3 separate regions of the Homo sapiens genome follow, and all the other regions are linked to region 3. Evidence: fine-mapped expression QTL. A gene starts in region 3. Each other region holds a variant in brackets. All regions are shown on one strand. Distances are from middle to middle.

Region 1 (5,709 bases), 190 kb before region 3:
GCTAAGGTGTCGGGAAGGAGAAAGCAGATCATTTAGGGCCTTGCAGACCATTGCCAGGGCACTGGCTTTAATTTTGGGAAAAATGAAGAATTGCTATGTGATTTTGAATGTAGTAGCAGTGAAGATGCCGAAAGATCAATGGATTGTGGATGTATTTTGAAGGTAGAGCTAGTGGAGCCTGAGAAAGGGTAGTCAAGGATGACTCCTAGTTTTTTTATTTGAGCAAATTGCAAGATGCCAGCCCAGGAAAGGCTGCAGCAGGGACAGGTTTAAGGGAGAAGATCAGGAGTTCGGTTTGGGGCACGTTGGGTTGGAGATGTCTATTCAACAACCAAAGAGAAATGCCAAGTAGGCCTTTGGAATTATGAGTCAAAATTTGGGAGAAGGGTCTGGGCTAGAGATAGAATTTCTCAATCATATTGGAAATTCTCAGCATATAGACGGAATTTACAGCCCTGGGACTTGGTGAAATCATCCGAGGAGGGAGCACAGAAAGGGGAATCCTGAGGCAGCCGACATGAAGGGGTTGGAGAGGTAAGGAGAAGCAGCACAGAAGACAGAGGAGGAGTAATCAGAGGTAGGCAGAAAACCAAGAGACTACTGTGTCCTGGAAGCCAAAGGAAGAAAAAGGAGTTAACTGTGTGGAATGCTCCTGACAGGTCAAATGAAATGTGACTGGGAAATGGGAACTAACCATTGGATTTAGCAACACGGAGGTCACTGCCGCCTTGATGAGAATGGTTTCCATGGCATGATGGGAATAGAAGCCTGGCTGGGGTGGGCTTCAGAAAGAACATATGGGGTAGAAGTGGAGACAGTGAGTATCAGCAGCTCTTTCAGGAGTCTTGCAAAAGGGGAGCTGGCAGGGTAAACGGATCAAAGAAAGCTTTTCAGAAAATCAACTTTATTAAGGCATAATTTACATATAATAAATTTGAAGTATACAGTTTAATGATTTTTGACAAATGTATGCATCCATGTAACCACCACAACAATCAAGATATATATTACCAGCATCACCCCAAAAGGTTCCTTGTGCTCCTTTTGTCAATCTCTCCCATCATCCCCTCCCCAATCCGCAGCTCCAGGCAACCACAGACCTGCTTTCTGTCTCTGAGATTAGTTTTGCCTTTTCTAAAATGTCGTATAAATTGAATCATATAGGATGTGCTCCTGTGTCTGGCTTTTTTTGCTCAGCATATACTTGAGAAATATCCATGTTGCTGTATCTATGAGTAGTTTCTTACTTTATATTGAGTTATATTTCATTGTATATATATACCGCAATTTGATTACCCATTACTTGTTGATGGACATTTGAGTTGTTTCTAGTTTTGGGCCATTATGATGAAAAATGGTATGAATATTTGTATACAAGTCTTTGTACGGACATCATTTCCTTCCTACTGGGTAGATATCAAGGAGTAGAATCGTTGGGTCATTTAGTGATGTATCTTTCATTTTATAAGAACTACCGAACTGTTTTCCAAAATAACTACATAATTTCACATTCTCACCAGCAATGTATGAGCTCCAAATTCTCCACAGATTTATCAACACCTGATATTGTCCGTCTTTAAATTTTAGAGGAAGTTTTTGTTATTTTTTTAATAGACTTATCTTTGGAAGAGCTTTAGATTCATAGAAAAGTTGAAAAGACAGTACAGGGTAGAGATTTCCAGAATACCCTTCGCCTAGCTTTCCCTCACGTATATTTGTCAAAACTAAGAAATTCACATTGGTATAAAACTAATAGCCCAACTATCAACTCTAATCAGAGTTTTTTGAATTTTCTCACTAATGTCTTTTTTCTGTTCCAAGATATCACTCTGCATTTTGTCATCATGTCTCAGTCATCCCAATCTGTGATCACTTCTTAGTCTTCCCTTGTTTATCATGACCTTAAGGGCTTTGAAGAATACTGGTCATGTATTCTGTAGAATGTTCCTCAGTTTGGGTTTATCTCATGTTTTCTTATAACTCAATAGATTTGAAGAATACCACAGTCGGGAATTGCCCTTCTCATGAGATCGTATCAGCGGGTGAATGATAGCAACATGACTTATCAGCGGTGATGTTAACCTTCATCATTTGGTTAACAAGGTACCTGCTGGGTTTCTTTCCTATAAAGTTACTATTTTCCCTTTCCATACTCTACTCTTTGGAAGTGAGTCACTAAATCCAGTCCACTCTCAAAGAGAGTGGATTTAAGCTCGGCTTCCTGGAGGGGAGAGTATCTACATATGCTATTTGGAATTCTTCTATAGAGAAGATTTTTCCCTTCTCGTTTATTAATTTGTTGAATCACTTATAATGAAGGCATTTTTTTAAAGATGGAAAAAATAACAGGTATTTATTTGTATGTTGATGGAAATGATCCAATAGAGAGCAAAATATTGTGAGTTTCTTTAGTTTCTATAGCAAGTATTGAAAATTTTTTTCACTGTTAGCTTTCCACCAGGCCTTTCCTCATGTCTTTTACAAATTCACTTCTTGGCCAGGCATGGTGATTCACACCTGTAATCTCAGCACAGGAGGCCAAGGTAGGAGGATCACTTAAGGTCAGGAGATCAAGCCCAGCCTTGGCAACATAGCAAAACTGTCTCCCCAAAAATTTATAAAAATAAAACAAAATAAAATAAATAAAATGTTTCATTTACCCACAATTCCGTTTCCTTAGGCCCTGTGGGAGGTCAGCTGTTGATGTCAGGGCCGACACTTCACAGCTGGCCGGTGGAACCAGGTGTCAGTTCTGGTGATCTGGCAGAAGTCCTTGGTACCTGGTGGCAGGGGACCCCTCCCTCCCCAACACACTCACTCTTCACACCTCCTCATCTCCTCAGCCACTCACAGGAGTTCAGTGCAGGGCTGGGGAAGGGCCTGCGTTTTCCTCTGGGTAGGAAAGAGCCAGGTATCCATCATGGGGAGCTGGGGCAGCTATAGGCCTCTGGAGGAGACTGGAGGGACTAAGGGGTCCTTGGGGGATAATTCAACAGGAAGGAAGCAGCAGATAGAATTTCTTGGCTCCAACTCAGAATCCAGAAAAGTGGGCCCTGTGTTTCTTCTGTCCCTTTGTTGGGAGGATGGAACTCTGAGGACAATGATCACAGCCACGAGCCCAGCTAGAGACTCAGGGGAGACATGTCTGAGCACCCCAGGATGCGGGAATGAGATATTCATAACCTTAGAGATCCAGGTTAGAAATTCAATGGTGGAAGCGACAGCCTGGGGAGAGGCCTAGGACAGATCCTGGATGGAACTTGGACCACTGCCAGTGGCCTACCACCTCATTCCCACCCCATCCTCCCCATCCCCACCACACAGAGACCTCTAATCTGGCCTCCAGCTGGGGAGCTCCCCACCCACACACCTGGCCCCTGCAGGGTGTGGGAGTGGTGGAGAGAGAGTGGTGGTGACAAAGTTGACATCTCCTAGGCAGCAGAAATGGTCTCCAGGCATGCATTTTGCAGAGGCTAGCAGAATGGCATCTATGTAGAT[A/C]TGTATATTTGTATATGAATCAATCCACACCCTGCGGTGACACCAGAAAAAACTGTCACCATTGAAAGGAAGGTGGTAAATTCCCTCTCATTCAGAGAATACCTTTCTCTTCTCAACCAGCTGCCCACGGGTTTCTCATCAAGATAGTAATTCATTGTACAGGGAAGGGAACTCACCATGTGGAAATTCCCACTTCCTCGGAGAACAGTGTGCACAGTGTTAACCTTGGTGAGTAAGAATTCCCCCTCCTCTCACACCCCCATTGGCAGCTTTCCTCTCGGAAGCCTGTGGTCACCTTCAGTCTTATCCACATCTGAAAAGTGACGTAGGGGCAAATCTGCCAAGCACCAACAACCCGAGCGATTGGAGCAGATATTGTCATCTTTTTGGTCTGCCCAGCAACCCCTCTGACAATAGCACTTCAGTTTCCTTTGGTGGAAAGCGGCTCTTCCTCCCTCTTTTCATGTGATTCTGGTAGGGGAGGGAGTACGTGACCCAAGCCTGGCCATCACAGAGACACATCTCTCTGGCCACAGGGAAGGACATATAGCCCAAGCTGGGCCAGTCAGTCACCTTTGGCCAACAATGCTAGACTGTAAGGCAGGGCAGAGCCTGTCTGAGGATGGAAAACTAAGAGATGGACAGAGGCCTGAAAGCAACCTCAGAGCTCCTGGGTCCAGCTGGTCTTTTTAGTTATAAGCAACTTATAAGCAACTTTCTTTCTTTCCTTCCTTCTTTCCTCCCTTCCTCCCTCCCTCCCTCCCTCCCTCCCTCCCTTCCTTCCTTCCTTCCTTCCTTCCTTCCTTCCTTCCTTCCTTCCTTCCTTTTCTATTAAATGAAATTTATAGGAGGTCACTGATTTGGGCTGAGCTCCTGCAGGAGGCCCCAGTAGACCAAACCAAGATGGAGTCACTCATGCTAAGTTCCATATCACCAAACTGAAACTAAGTCATCAGACCTTCCCAGAACTCAAGACAGAGAGAGATAATATGCAAATCCCCAAACAGGCCAGTTGTAGCCAGCATGATAAGGAAGTCCCCTCTACTTTAACCTTTATAAGGAAAGTAACCTGAAGTAACCTGAGCTTACCAATCTGCTTTTTGTTCCCTGTGTCTGCTTTCTTCACCCTTTTCTGCCTATAAAGCCAAGCTTCTCTGTTTAGCTCATCAGAGCACTTTTCCTAAAGTTTTAGAGGAGATGCTGCCCCAATTCATGAATTACAAATAAAAACCAATTCAATCATTTAACTAAATGTGTTGTAATTTTGCCTTTCGACATTTCTCCCTTTTTCTTTCTGTTCTCTCTCTTTCTTCCTCCCTGTCTCCGCTTCTCCCTTTCCTACCTATTTTGGCTCAGGCCAGTTTGAATTTGGCTTTTGTCTCTCACACTAAAATTTTTCCAAAAAATACCCTAATGGCATTGTCGCCTCACACGCCTGCTTGTCCCGCAACATTGGTTGAGAAAGGCTTAAGGTCTCTGTTTTTGAGTTGTCACAAGGGGACTGAACCATTCCAACCTACAACCTCTTTTGTCCCGTAAAGTGTAAAATAAGAATATCTTTTTAAGATTGAATACATGTATTTTTCTATTATACAAGTCATACAAATATTTAATTTTAAATGAGAGAAAGGGGAAAAATCAGTCATAGTCCAGCAACTGTGATTTTAGCTTATTTTATTAATAGCTTATTTCCTTACAAATATTTCCCCACACGTTTATTTAGTCGCAGGCTTCATGCATACAAAATGCACACTGCTATGATCATCGTAACCATCAGCAAGCAGGCATTGTCATCAGCGCTTCTTTATTTCTGTGGTTTCTCAGTCTCTTTTATTTTCTTTCTTTAAAAAAGAAAAAAAACTTTTTTTTTTCCTGGTCAACAGGGCCTGGGCAACATGGCAAGACTGTCTCTTTAAAAAAGGAAGAAAAAAATTAGCCAGGTGTGGTGGTGCATGCCTGTGCTTCCAGCTACTTGAGAGGTTGAGATAGGAGGATCGCTTCAGCATGGGAGGTCAAAGCCACAGTGAGCCGTGTAAAATAAAAACTAAAAAAGAGGAAAGAATAAACTTAGTTTTTTGAAGAGACACTATGTTGCTCAGGCTGGCCTCAAATTCCTGGCCTCAAGCGATCCTCCTACCTCAGCCTCCCAAAGCACTAAGATTACAGGGATGAGCCACACTCAGCCCAAAGTCTCAATTTTCCATGACTTTT
Region 2 (5,709 bases), 71 kb before region 3:
ACCTTCATGTTGTTTGAGAAACATAAACCCCTATTTGTGGAATTTACTTTTAGTCAGAGTTTTGCTAACAGATATAGTTCATGGAAAGAATTTTGCTTTACTAGTATTTACTCTAATACGTCTACCTAAATATCCACCATGTCCTCTTTGTCTCTCTCCCGTATATTTCAGCACTGCCTAAAGTCTGTATTTATTGTTCCCATGGTTTTTCATTTTTATTTTTTTTTCTGAGATGGAGTCTCACTCTGTCTCCCAGGCTGGAGTGCAGTGGCGTGATCTCGGCTCACTGCAACCTCCACCTCCCAGGTTCAAGCAATTCTCCTGCCTCAGCCTCCTGAGTAGCTGGGATTACAGGCATGCACCATTAGATTTTGAAAATGAAACTTACTCATAAATATATTTCTTTCAAAATGAATTTTATAACTCTTTTCCCTTCAAATTTAAAACTTAAACCTCTACTAAGTTCCCATGGGTTCTTTTCATGGAAACTTAGTAGAGGTTTAAGTTTTAAATTTGGAAGGAAAAGATTTACAAAATTCATTTTGAAAGAAATATATTTATGAGTAAGTTTCATTTTCAAAATCTAATGTGTGATCACTTCATTTAGATTAAACTGTTGCCTGGTGCACTTGCAACCCACACATGGCAGAATTAGTTGGTGTGGGAGAAGGAAAGGGAAACTCTGACTGCATAGGGTCAAAAGCTGTTTGATGACAGGTCCGTTTGTGCATAAGGACAATACTTTTAGAAACCCATAACCTTAGCAACCTCAAATGCCAAAAGCAGAGTGTGAAATAACCAAACTAGAAAAAAAAATGGAGGCCTTATTGATCTTCATCGCACTAATACACCCTTACCATTTTAAAGAAAAGTATACTTTTTAGAAGAAAAAAGAAACCTATGTTTTTAAATTTTTTTAATTACTCCCTTGAACATGTGTGTGTGGTTTCTTTAGGAGAGTCTGGGTAGTTGACATTGTTTTGTCTACTAAGGATATGAGTCTATTGTATCATGTAATTTCCTGTTTATTAGGACCCTTGGGGGAAAATTTCTGTCTGCTCATGGGAGCCCAAATATTTGTAACTGAGCAACAGGTTTATTTTAATCTCATGAATATTGTAGGTGATTTAATTGTCAATGGGCTGCTTATTTTTGTTTTCTTGGTTGCTTTTTAAAAAAGTTATTTAAAAAGGTACACAAGTCACATGACATTAGTTCCTATTAAAAAAGATTGAGTTAATTCAGTCAGATTTTTATGTAACATCCAAGAGTGACTCTGTCCCATAATACACCCTCTGCTTCACTTGATGTTTTCTAGCGTTGACTCAGGATATGCAGTAGTAACTAACATCACATGAATTTTCAAAATTGCATTTATTTTTAGCACCAACTTTAAGGATTTTTATTATGACAATAGAGGTTAATGAGCATTTTCACAAGATAAACAAAAAATCCCCCCAAATATGTAAGTGTTTTAACATAATGATTGCAGTTTATTTTTCACTCAGGTCAAATCCAAGATGGGTGTTCCTGATCTGCCTGTAGCTCTCCTCCAACCCAGACTCCTTTCAAACTGTGCCTCCACCATCTTCAATATGGAGCTTCCAAGATTGCCCTGCTGCCCTGCATCAAGCCTGCAAAAGAGGATAGGGGGTCAGGCCACTCATATTTCATTGGCCCAAATTCAGTCACATGGCCACACTCACTGCAAGGGAAGCTGGGAAATGGAGTCTAGCTCTGTGCCCAAGAAGCAAAGAAAAACAGATTTGATGAAGACTTAGTCAATCTCTGCAACAATGAAACAGATAAGAAGGCAAAAGAAAAAGAATTTTACAACCTGAGGAGGGAGAGAAAATTCAGTTAACAAAAAGATAGACTACATGCCAAGGTAGTCTGCAGAATTCTACCTACCCAAATTATGTGTTAAATTGTGAAAGAAGTTATGATAAAAATAGGATGAGGGTGAAATTTGAAAAATGCTCTGGGGACACATAGCACACTCCTTCCCTGGTGACACAGTAGGCAGAACCAAGCCAACTATAAAAGGAAGCTCAGTGTGTTTAATCTGTTGCTCGGATAAAACCATCCTGGAAAAACTCCCAGTTTTACAATCTAACTGATCATCAGTATCTCAGTTATACAAATAACTCCAGCCTGCATGAAATACCTTCTTGCTCCCCTTGACTTGTAAAAATAACTTTGTTTCAATGGAAAAGGTGTAGAAAATGGACGTTGAAGCCAATCAAACTCATAGTATCAATACTTTGTGTTAAGCTTTAGGAGTAAGTTTTGTAATCATTGCAATCAGCTTGTTTTTGTTATTTAAGCAGCTTAAAATGATTAAGATAATCTGACATATTAGCCTTACGATTTTATTTTGGAATGATAAACTAATACTCAATTTGTAATTTTCACTTGAAAGTTGCAGAATAATTGAATATGTTCTTTAAAAGTGTTTGAATATTCAGAAGAATCTAATTTACTACATGTATAAACTAGTATTATTACAAGAGTTCATTGAGATATTGAAGGATTTTTCTTGCTTTGTTTGTAAATGTTGCCCCATCAGGCATTTGAAGTGTTTGAGAAAGTCAAAGTTATTAAATTTGTAAAGATAGTTAAAAATATTTTAGGAAATCTTTTTACATGTATAAAGATGGTCAGTTTGAAGAAATTTAATGTTTTTAAGTTTGTAAGTTGATTGAACACTAATCAAACAAGAAAAGCAATTGTTCTCATTTTTATATAAAAATCACTATATTTACAAATAAAATAACCAGGTTTATAGACTAAGCTTGAAGGCCTAAAACACATTTTAAGTGTAAGGGCCAGGGGTAGGGGGGCAACAAAGAGCAAGAAGCCAAGAGGAGCTAAGAAACCGGAACCTGAGCTGCAGTCCCCAGAGGAAGGGACTTGCTTGGAAGTCTACTTCCTCCCAG[A/G]GGTAAGCTGTCGAGTCATATGGGAAAGAGGTAGTGAGACTAATGGGCAGAATCAGGGTCATTCCTGGATTTCTGTCTAAAACAGGGCAAAGAGGAGCAGGGGTAGGGCCCAGCAACAGGATATGGGTCTGACAGAGATTCAAGATGGGTAGCAGGGCCCTGTGTGGACAGAGGGTGCACATAAGAAGACGTAAGAGGACAATGGAGAGGCTACACCATAATGGAGATGTCTGGCCACTTGGTGCTGAGATAGAGAGCAGAACAGACACTAAATAAGGCCAGTGTCCCCACCACCAAGGGACAAAGGGACAGGAGAAGGAACAGAGAGGCCCTTGGGGAAGTGGATGCTCTTGAAGAACAGGTGGAATAGACACCTGGCGTCTTGGTGCCTATCATGTGATAATCATCTTAACTGTGAACCCGGTGAAGGACAGGAGCAGCTTATATCAAGTTCTGAGGTGTGGGGGTGGGGATACAGTGCTCCAGTATGGGGTGTGGAAAAGTGGGGCTACATTGACAGCATCACAGGACTCTACCATCTAGATGACAGTAATGCCCCTCCCCAACTCATGAAAATCAAAACTATCTCCAGAAATTGCCACATTTCCCCCCAGCCCCCAGGGGTGACAAAATCGTCTGTGGATAAGACCCACTGCTCTAGAATGTAAATGCCATGAAAGCTGGAACATTTTCTAACGTATCTTCAGCAACCCATAAGTGACACTGAATAAGTATTTGTTGAATAAATGAATGAATGAGTGGGTTATGAATCATAACAGCAATGGAAGAGCAGTGAGAACATGACAATCAAATCCCAAAGCCTTCCTGGATTAAAATAAGTGAGAATCAATTGGAATAAGACAGAATCAAGATAGCTTTATCCTTAATAAAGTTAAGAAAGAAATAATGGTTTGTTTATACTTAAAATTTTAAATTTTTCTGGTTGGGACATTGATTTATTTCCTCATGCTAGTAGTGAGTATATACTTATCATTATAAATATAATTTCATACATTTAAACACAGGCATGTTTCTTCTCTGGGGTTCTTAGCATTCCAGTTGGAAATCCATCTCTATGTTAAGCACAAAGCTCCATATGTCACTTAAGTGAATGGACCACCAATCAACTAGTGATAGCAACAAGAGGCAAAGGGCACAGAGTGAAGGAGGAAGAGTACAAAATGCCTTCCCATTTTCCCCAAAATCCCAGAATGCAATCGCCATATCTCAGAGGAACATCTGGTTGAATTGGGAGGGTGGGTAAGATTTTGGAGGATCTGGGAGGCCAGGCCAAGGAGTTGTTTTAAGGTAGTGAGCATTTGAGAACCATGAGAACATGTGGAGCACAGTCAGATGTTGTCAATCGTGCCTTAAGAAGATTCTGCAGGCAGTGGCGGTCAGGGAAGAAAGTAGAGGAGAGAGATGCACCAGGCTGCCTATGATGAGATGTGCACCAAGGAAGCTGGCTGCTTGACTTCAGAGCCAAGGAAATGGAGTGTGGACATTACTGCAAAGCTGGACTTCTGTTAAGGACAGAGCTTTCACAATGCTTACACATTGTTGGTTTACAATTCCCTGAATTTAGCAATGCTTGATGATAATGGAATTTACTTTCCTATTGAAACAACTCAGAGAGGATTACTAAGGCAGGGTCATGAAGACCTGGACAAACTGACCCTCTCACCGCCTTGGATAGCCTTGGCCACTTGAGTCAAATCCAGTGTTATCTGGGAGTGAGGGATTATTTTGTCTCAAGGGTAATCAGCTTTAAGGCAAGATTCTAGGAAACAACCTTCACTTAAAATTTTCTTTTCATTAAGATCCAAAGAATAATTTTCAGTGATTATGAAATTATAGTCTCTTATCTTTGTTTCTTTGATTTTTATAACATTATGGCAGAAAATGCCAGCAAATCCCTTATATCCATTCTTCCTTTCTCCCTCATAGCAGAATCCCTGGTTTATCAGCTGGGAATGTGGAAATCCAGACAGCAAATCTCATTTTCCAGATTCCCTTGCTAGCTAGGTGTGGCCCTATTGCTAACTACTTCTTCTTTTTTTTTTTTTTTTTTTGAGACAGAGTCTCACTCTGCCACCCAGGCTGAAGTACAGTGGCACAATCTTGGCTCACTGCAACCTCCAGCTCCTGGGTTCAAGCAATTCTCATGTCTCAGCCTCCCAAGTAGCTGGAATTATAGGCGTGCACCACCATGCCCAGCTAATTTTTATATTTTTAGTAGAGACAGCGTTTCACCATATTGGCTAAGCTGCTCTCAAACTCCTGACCTCAAGTGATCCGCCTGCCTTGGCCTCCCAAACTGCTGGGATTACAGGCATGAGCCACCGCACCTGACCTGTTGCTACCTTCTGACTAATGACATGGGGGCAGAAGTATCACATGGAAGTTTCTGGGAACCTTCCTTTAAAGACACCCTGTGTCTGCTCTTTGCTCTCTTCCATCTTGCTGATATGGCCTCCCGGGACATGGGAAGCAGGCTCTCCTAAGGATGGCGGTGGGGTAGTGGGGTGGGGGACCTGGCAAATCTGCCATGCCAGTCCTTCACATGAGACAGAAATAATGCCATATTTTGTGTAGGCTTCTCTTTGGGATGTTTTCCATTACTTGCAGACAAACTCATCCTCAGTAATACAAAAAATAAAATTATATTCTATAGTATGATCTCTCACCTACCCTATTAAAAATGTTTTGTAACTTCTCCTTACTCATTCTTTCTTCCTCACAATTTGTCCCACATGTAGTTGATAAATGA
Region 3 (5,709 bases):
GCTAGGACTACAGGTGTGTGCCACCGTGCCCAGCACACTTGGGGAGTTTTAAAAACTACTGATGCCTGAGCACCACCCTCAGTGATTCTGATTTAATTGTTGGGTGCAACGTGGACATAAGAATATGCAGCCAAATTTGAAAACACTGCTCTAAAAGCAGAGGGAGATATAGAACAGAGAGCACAGGGATATTTCCGGGGTATAATAAACAGGACTTGGTGGTTAGTTATGAATTGGAAGGGACAAAAAGAATGGGGCCTGGGAACAATCCTAGGTTTCTGGCTTGTGTCTGGGTGAATGAAAGAAGCATGCTTTGAGGAAAGAACAAACTACATCTTGGACAGCCTGAATCTGAGGTGCCTCTAGGAATTCAAGTTGGGGATGTTCAATAGGTATTTGTTTTTTAATAGATTTATTTGGCCTAGTGAAGAATAGAAAGTCCTTCTAATTTTTAGGAAGACAAGAAAGCCAGAAGCAGCATCTCTGGAAAATATTACCGTTGTACAGAGTGTAAGACCATTTTCATTCCGCACAGCTTCTTTATTCAAAATCCCCTTTCAAGCCAGTGCCCCATCTGTGCTGAAATGTTGTTTAACATGTTGATCTATTTTCTTTTCTTTTTTTTTTTTTTTTTTTTTTGAGACGGAGTCTCGCTCTGTCGCCCAGGCTGGAGTGCAGTGGCGAGATCTCTGCTCACTACAAGCTCCGCCGCCCGGGTTCACGCCATCCTCCTGCCTCAGCCTCCCGAGTAGCTGGGACTACAGGCGCCCGCCACCACGCCCAGCTAATTTTTTGTATTTTTAGTAGAGACGGGGTTTCACTATGTTAGCCAGGATGGTCTCGATCTCCTGACCTCGTGATCCGCCCGCCTCGGCCTCCCAAAGTGCTAGGATTACAGGCGTGAGCCACCAATTCCGGCCAACATATTGATATATTTTCAAGAAGGATATTATATATGGGTACTTAACTTACTATTCTTGTGCTATCTGTAGGCTTAAAGCATCCCATATGTAAAGTCGCTGGCAGCCTTCAAGTAGCATTTAAAGGTATAACAGCTTTAAAACTTCCCATAAATGAAAATAAACATACCCATAATTACTTCCTTTAAGATTCGAGGCCAAAGACACTTAAACCTAAACTGCCTAGCTTGTTCAATTTTCTAATTGGTAAACATTTACTGGGTTACCAAAGATACCAAGTACATTCGGAAAGACCATGGCTCCTTGGTTTGTTTCTAATTTAAATTACACAGACACACTAAACAAGGACTGGGAGAGTGATATATTTAGTTAAGTAACAGATGGCAAATGGACATTCTGTCCAGCCTCTATCACATTCGTTTCTCAGTATTCTATGTTAGAGTGATCTAAATCTTGAAGAGAATAAACCAGGAGGAAATGCACCAGGCCCAGACGGAATTTGTTTATTCAACTAAGAATACCAAGACTAGTGTAGATTGAAACATTCAAAGGGGATATGACTGGCTGAAAAGATATGAGACGAAGGAACAAATAAAGCTGGATTAAAGTAATTAGGAATGTATTAGAGATGAAATAGGAATTCTGATTACTTGACTGCAAAATAGTAAAAAAAAAATGAAATAAAAGAGATGAATGGAAGATACTCTCCAAACCCTCACGTAGGCTTGCTATTGTGGCTAAGTACTGTTCCTAACAGCCTCTGCAAAGACAGGTGCACTAAGAGGGCGGCTGCAGACGCACAGGGTGCTGCCGTCCTCTGGGAAAGGACATTTCCTCGCCGAGAGCTGCAACATCCCGGCACTTCTCTCCCTCGGCCTGCCAATCTAGCAGGTGAACCCTGAGAACACAAAGGAATGAATAATGCCGGGCAAACTGCCAAGAGCCAGAGTCGCCGAGTCTGGCAACTCCCTTCAACCGGGCGCAGCTCCAGCCACCCCGACCTGTCCTTGGAGGAGACGCTCTCTGGGCCACGGAGAACCGGCCAGGGAGACACCGGCCCCACTGCCCGGCGCGCTCGAGGCGAAGTCCCCTCCGCCAGGGACAGGCGTGGGGGCCGCAGTCGGGGCCACCCGGGTGCAGCGGGGCGGCTCCTGCGCGGGCGCGGAACGAACGTGCGCAAGGGAACAGCCGCGTCCAGAGCCGCCCGCAGCGGGCCCGGTGGGCGTGACGCCATGACGCACAGCACGCGGGCGGCGCGCTGGGGCGGGGCGGCCGGGGGCGGGAGGAAGAAGTGGGAGGAGGAGGAGGGGAAAGCGGGGGCTGCGGGAGGGGGAGGTGGTAGTTGCGGCGCTGGTTCCCGGGAGCAGCCGTCGAGCCACAACTGCGGAGGAGGAGTTCGGGAAAGCGGCCGTCGGGACTCCTCCCCTCCGTCGTCTCCGCCCCGGTTGAGAGGCGCCTCGGCGCATCGGAGGGACCCTCCCCCGCGCTTCCTCAGGCTGCTGTCGCCGCTGCTGGGAGATGGGCCTACTCGCCCGCCACCCTGCGCTGCCGCCGCTCTGAGGAGTTAAAGGTACGGGCGGGCACCCGGAGGAGCTTGCGCCCCGGAGCGGGAGAGAAGGGGCGGCTCTCGCTTACGACCCAGGGAGCTCTGGCCGGGCCGCAGCCCTAGCGCCCCTGCCCGGGACAGAAATGGATTCGGAAGTCCGGTGGGAAAGGCGTCTCCTCCAGTGTCCAGCGTGGGCTCGGGGCCGTGGCCGGCTTAGGGGGTCAGGCCTCGGTCAGCTCCGGGTCCCCTACCCGGCCCAGGCGCGGGCGTCTCCCGGGCCGCGGGGGCCGAGGTGGAGCGTGGGATCCGCCCCAAGCCCTGTCCTCCTGGTGCCTGTGCGGCCGGCGGCCGGCCCGGCGATATTATGACGGGCCGAGGCGGCGCTCCCCTCGAGCTGTCTCCTGCCCCTAAAGCGGGGGAGACCCAAGGGCGGTTGCCGCGGGGAGGCGGCGGGGGCGGAACGCATTCCTGACGGGTGAAATCGGCTCTAACGGGACCGATTTCCGGGCCTCGCTGCAAATTTGGAGCCGGGACATCGCCCCGCAAGCCGTGCTGCCTGGGGCCTTAGGGAGGGGAGCTGTGTTCGGAGGAAGGTTAGTCCGGGACTGCTACCACCTCCTTCAAAAGCAAAAATTACACATCACACCAAAATGGTGTAGCCTTGGGGTGAAGTATGTGTTAACGGGGGTCTTCCGGGATTGTCTCCCCGTGCTAAGCCTTTAGGGTGTTCCCAGCCCTCGCCCGGCAAGTAATACTACTACTTTGAATTTTCAGTTTTTCTTATCTGGGTTCCACTCTGCAGTTGCTCTTTTTTTCCCATTTCCATTAATGGGAAGAAGAAAAAGAAGTTTAGGGTTCATTAACCCCGCGACAAGGGCAGTAAATAAAAAGAGGGAAGAGAGTGGTTAAGGCTATATATGGGAGAGAGAAACGTTTAATTTTTTCCCATTGACCCTTGGAGATATAAATACACGAACGATGCTTTACTCTGCTTAATGTTTACTGTCCACAGTGTTGCAGAATGTTCTGTTGGGGTGACGTTAGAAAAGACGGCGTTTAAGTGCCGTTGCAATTTTCAAACCTAGATGTTGGCTAGAAATGCTAATTTTAAGTGTTAGTAAACAGTAGAGGCTTAAAGCAGCCCTTTCCTTTGATCGGTTGTCTTAAATTGTGATCTTTACATTCCACATTTTTTTTTTTTAAAGAACATGGTTCTTTTCATTTTTTTAAAATATCTTTTCTTATTTTAACCTAGATTCATTGAGTTTTGGTTGTTTGAAGTCTGACGGTTTGCCTTAAGTTTTATTTTCAGTTTTGCCATTACCCGTCTTAATACACATTTTACCACTTCTGTTTATAATGCAAGCCATTACCCTGTTTGCCTGTTTTTGCTTCTTTAACACTGACTGAACTATCTGAATTGAGTTAAAATGTAAATACTTCTCTATTTAGAAAATGGCGATGATCGTATTTTCAAATGTTCTTTCCTTGTTACAGTTTCATGGTAAAAATTTAGAATTAAGTCTTGGGACTTAATAAACCAAATTATGCTAAAAAAACACTTTTAAAATTTGTTAGTTTAATGCCCTGCTTAATGTTCTCTTTTTTTAAATTACTGTATAAAATTTAACTGAAGTTTAAATTTTACGTGTCCATGGAAAATATTTTAATGTCATCGCAAGGTGTCTTTGAGGAAAAAATTACAGTTGGCAACTAATGTTAGTGTATTTTTTTCACTATCTTAGCTTCCAGGAGATTCCAGTAAGATTAATTTTTAAAACTGCAGCATCATTTTAGGAGTTGAAGCACAACCCAATTCTTAGTACCAAATAGTGGCCACTGGAAATTTTGTTTTCTCATTTAGGGGATGCCTCAGTTGATCAGTAGACTTAATATAAAGAACTGTCCATACTGTCAACCAGACAGTGTTGGGATTTTTAAACAAATTTTGGTGATTTCTTGAGTTTTTGATGTATTTTGCTTGACTGAAACTTATTTTCTGCCTAACACACGAGAGGTGCTAAGATTCCTATTTTTAAAGATACTTCATTCAAGAAAATGGATGAATAAATAAAATACTTAGCATCTTGGTGGAAAGTAAATGCACTTCCCAAATTTGAATGTAAGTGAAGTCGTAAAGCAGTATGTTTGCAGTTGAGGATGTAAGACACTTGGGTCACCTCTATTTTATTGGGGTTGGATTGAAGGATACTATTTGTTATGGGGTTGTTTAGAATTAAATATGGGTAATTAAAAGCAAACTTTTTGTTTTAACTATTTGAAATAATCACTTGTATATTATGGAAGATTCTGACACCCCCTCCCCACCACGGTTTTTTTTTTGTTGCGGCAGTTTGTATCTTGAACACTTATTTAGATTTATATAGAAATTTTTTGGTTTCAGATTATTTCTCCCCCTTCTCCAACACATATAGTTTGTTGTTGTTGTCGTTTTTAATCTACAGGGCACAGATGGTTGAGATATGTAGTTTTCTGTAATTTCCAAGTAGGGAAAAGAAGGCAAAATATTTGTGATAACATGTAAAAGTCCCTAGTCAAGTGCTGGGCGCAGAGTAAGCTGGAGATAAATTTTGTTATATTAATATTTACATCTGAATTGCTCACTTATATCTTCTCTACTCGGGTTATATAGGAAATCTTAGGGAATTGTTATTCGTTTTTCTAATGTCATTAATAAGTGAAAACTGACTGTCAAATGCAGGCTGGTTTTGTACTGAACTAATAAGCTTATGATCTTTTAACATTCTTTGCCAAGATAAAAATTAGGCCACCTTGGGCAAAAGCCCAAAGTAAAGTTGAATTTCTAAATTTACATTTCATTGCATATTGCATTGTATTTGGCAAACTAGCACATCATAGCAAAATGGTAGTTGAATTTAGATTGTCTGAAAGGACCCATGATTATATATGGAGTAGTACTTCAGCTTAAAAGCTATTTATCAAAATATTCATCTTACTACTTACGGAGAATAGCTAAATTTTTCTTTACTTAGGAATTTTTTTTCTCCAACTAGGAGTAATTATGAATTTTCTTTTTTTAAGCCATGCCAGTTCTCTGTTAGTAGATAGAAGATGTCTAACATTGAAACAACTCATTTACTTAACCGTACCTGCACAGCTAAAGACTAAGGGATAATATTTCCTTGCTGAACATACCTGTATTTCAGATGGTGGTAGGCTTCAACCAAACAGGCAGTGAAATCACTTTGGGTGTTTAAAACT

Alleles and levels. Positions count from the first base shown, and alleles are read on the strand shown. Sizes are in standard deviations (SD) of each study's normalised expression.
For the expression in neural progenitor cells of the gene that starts at base 2,404 in region 3, A is the low allele of the variant in region 1 and C is the other (large effect, 1.0 SD a copy in Aygun 2021).
For the expression in monocytes after LPS of the gene that starts at base 2,404 in region 3, allele A in region 2 goes with a lower level than allele G (moderate effect, 0.54 SD a copy in Fairfax 2014).

The links. PIP is the estimated chance that this variant, and not a neighbour inherited with it, causes the effect.
Region 1: its variant is fine-mapped to the expression of RNF19A in neural progenitor cells (Aygun 2021, PIP 0.95).
Region 2: its variant is fine-mapped to the expression of RNF19A in monocytes after LPS (Fairfax 2014, PIP 0.95). The same link has a PIP of 0.9 or more in monocytes after Pam3CSK4.

The regions. Positions count from the first base shown.
Region 1 is chr8:100,500,595-100,506,303 of GRCh38, reverse strand. LOC124901992 (a long non-coding RNA gene) reads right to left here. Exons shown (of 2, transcript XR_007061032.1): 2 at 5,156-5,542. Among named protein-coding and RNA genes, the nearest start is that of ANKRD46, 56 kb to the left of the region's middle. RefSeq lists an enhancer at 3,636-3,795 and a silencer at 4,435-4,504. The variant A/C (reference allele first, on the strand shown) is at 3,499.
Region 2 is chr8:100,377,571-100,383,279 of GRCh38, reverse strand. MIR4471 (microRNA 4471) reads right to left here and starts at 517; the gene lies at 435-517. LOC124901991 (a long non-coding RNA gene) reads right to left here. Exons shown (of 2, transcript XR_007061030.1): 2 at 1,356-1,634. RefSeq lists an enhancer at 607-706. The variant A/G (reference allele first, on the strand shown) is at 2,940.
Region 3 is chr8:100,306,648-100,312,356 of GRCh38, reverse strand. RNF19A (ring finger protein 19A, RBR E3 ubiquitin protein ligase) reads left to right here and starts at 2,404. Exons shown (of 10, transcript NM_183419.4): 1 at 2,404-2,490. RefSeq lists silencers at 2,047-2,206, 1,912-2,301, 2,662-2,751, 2,802-2,851, 3,122-3,171.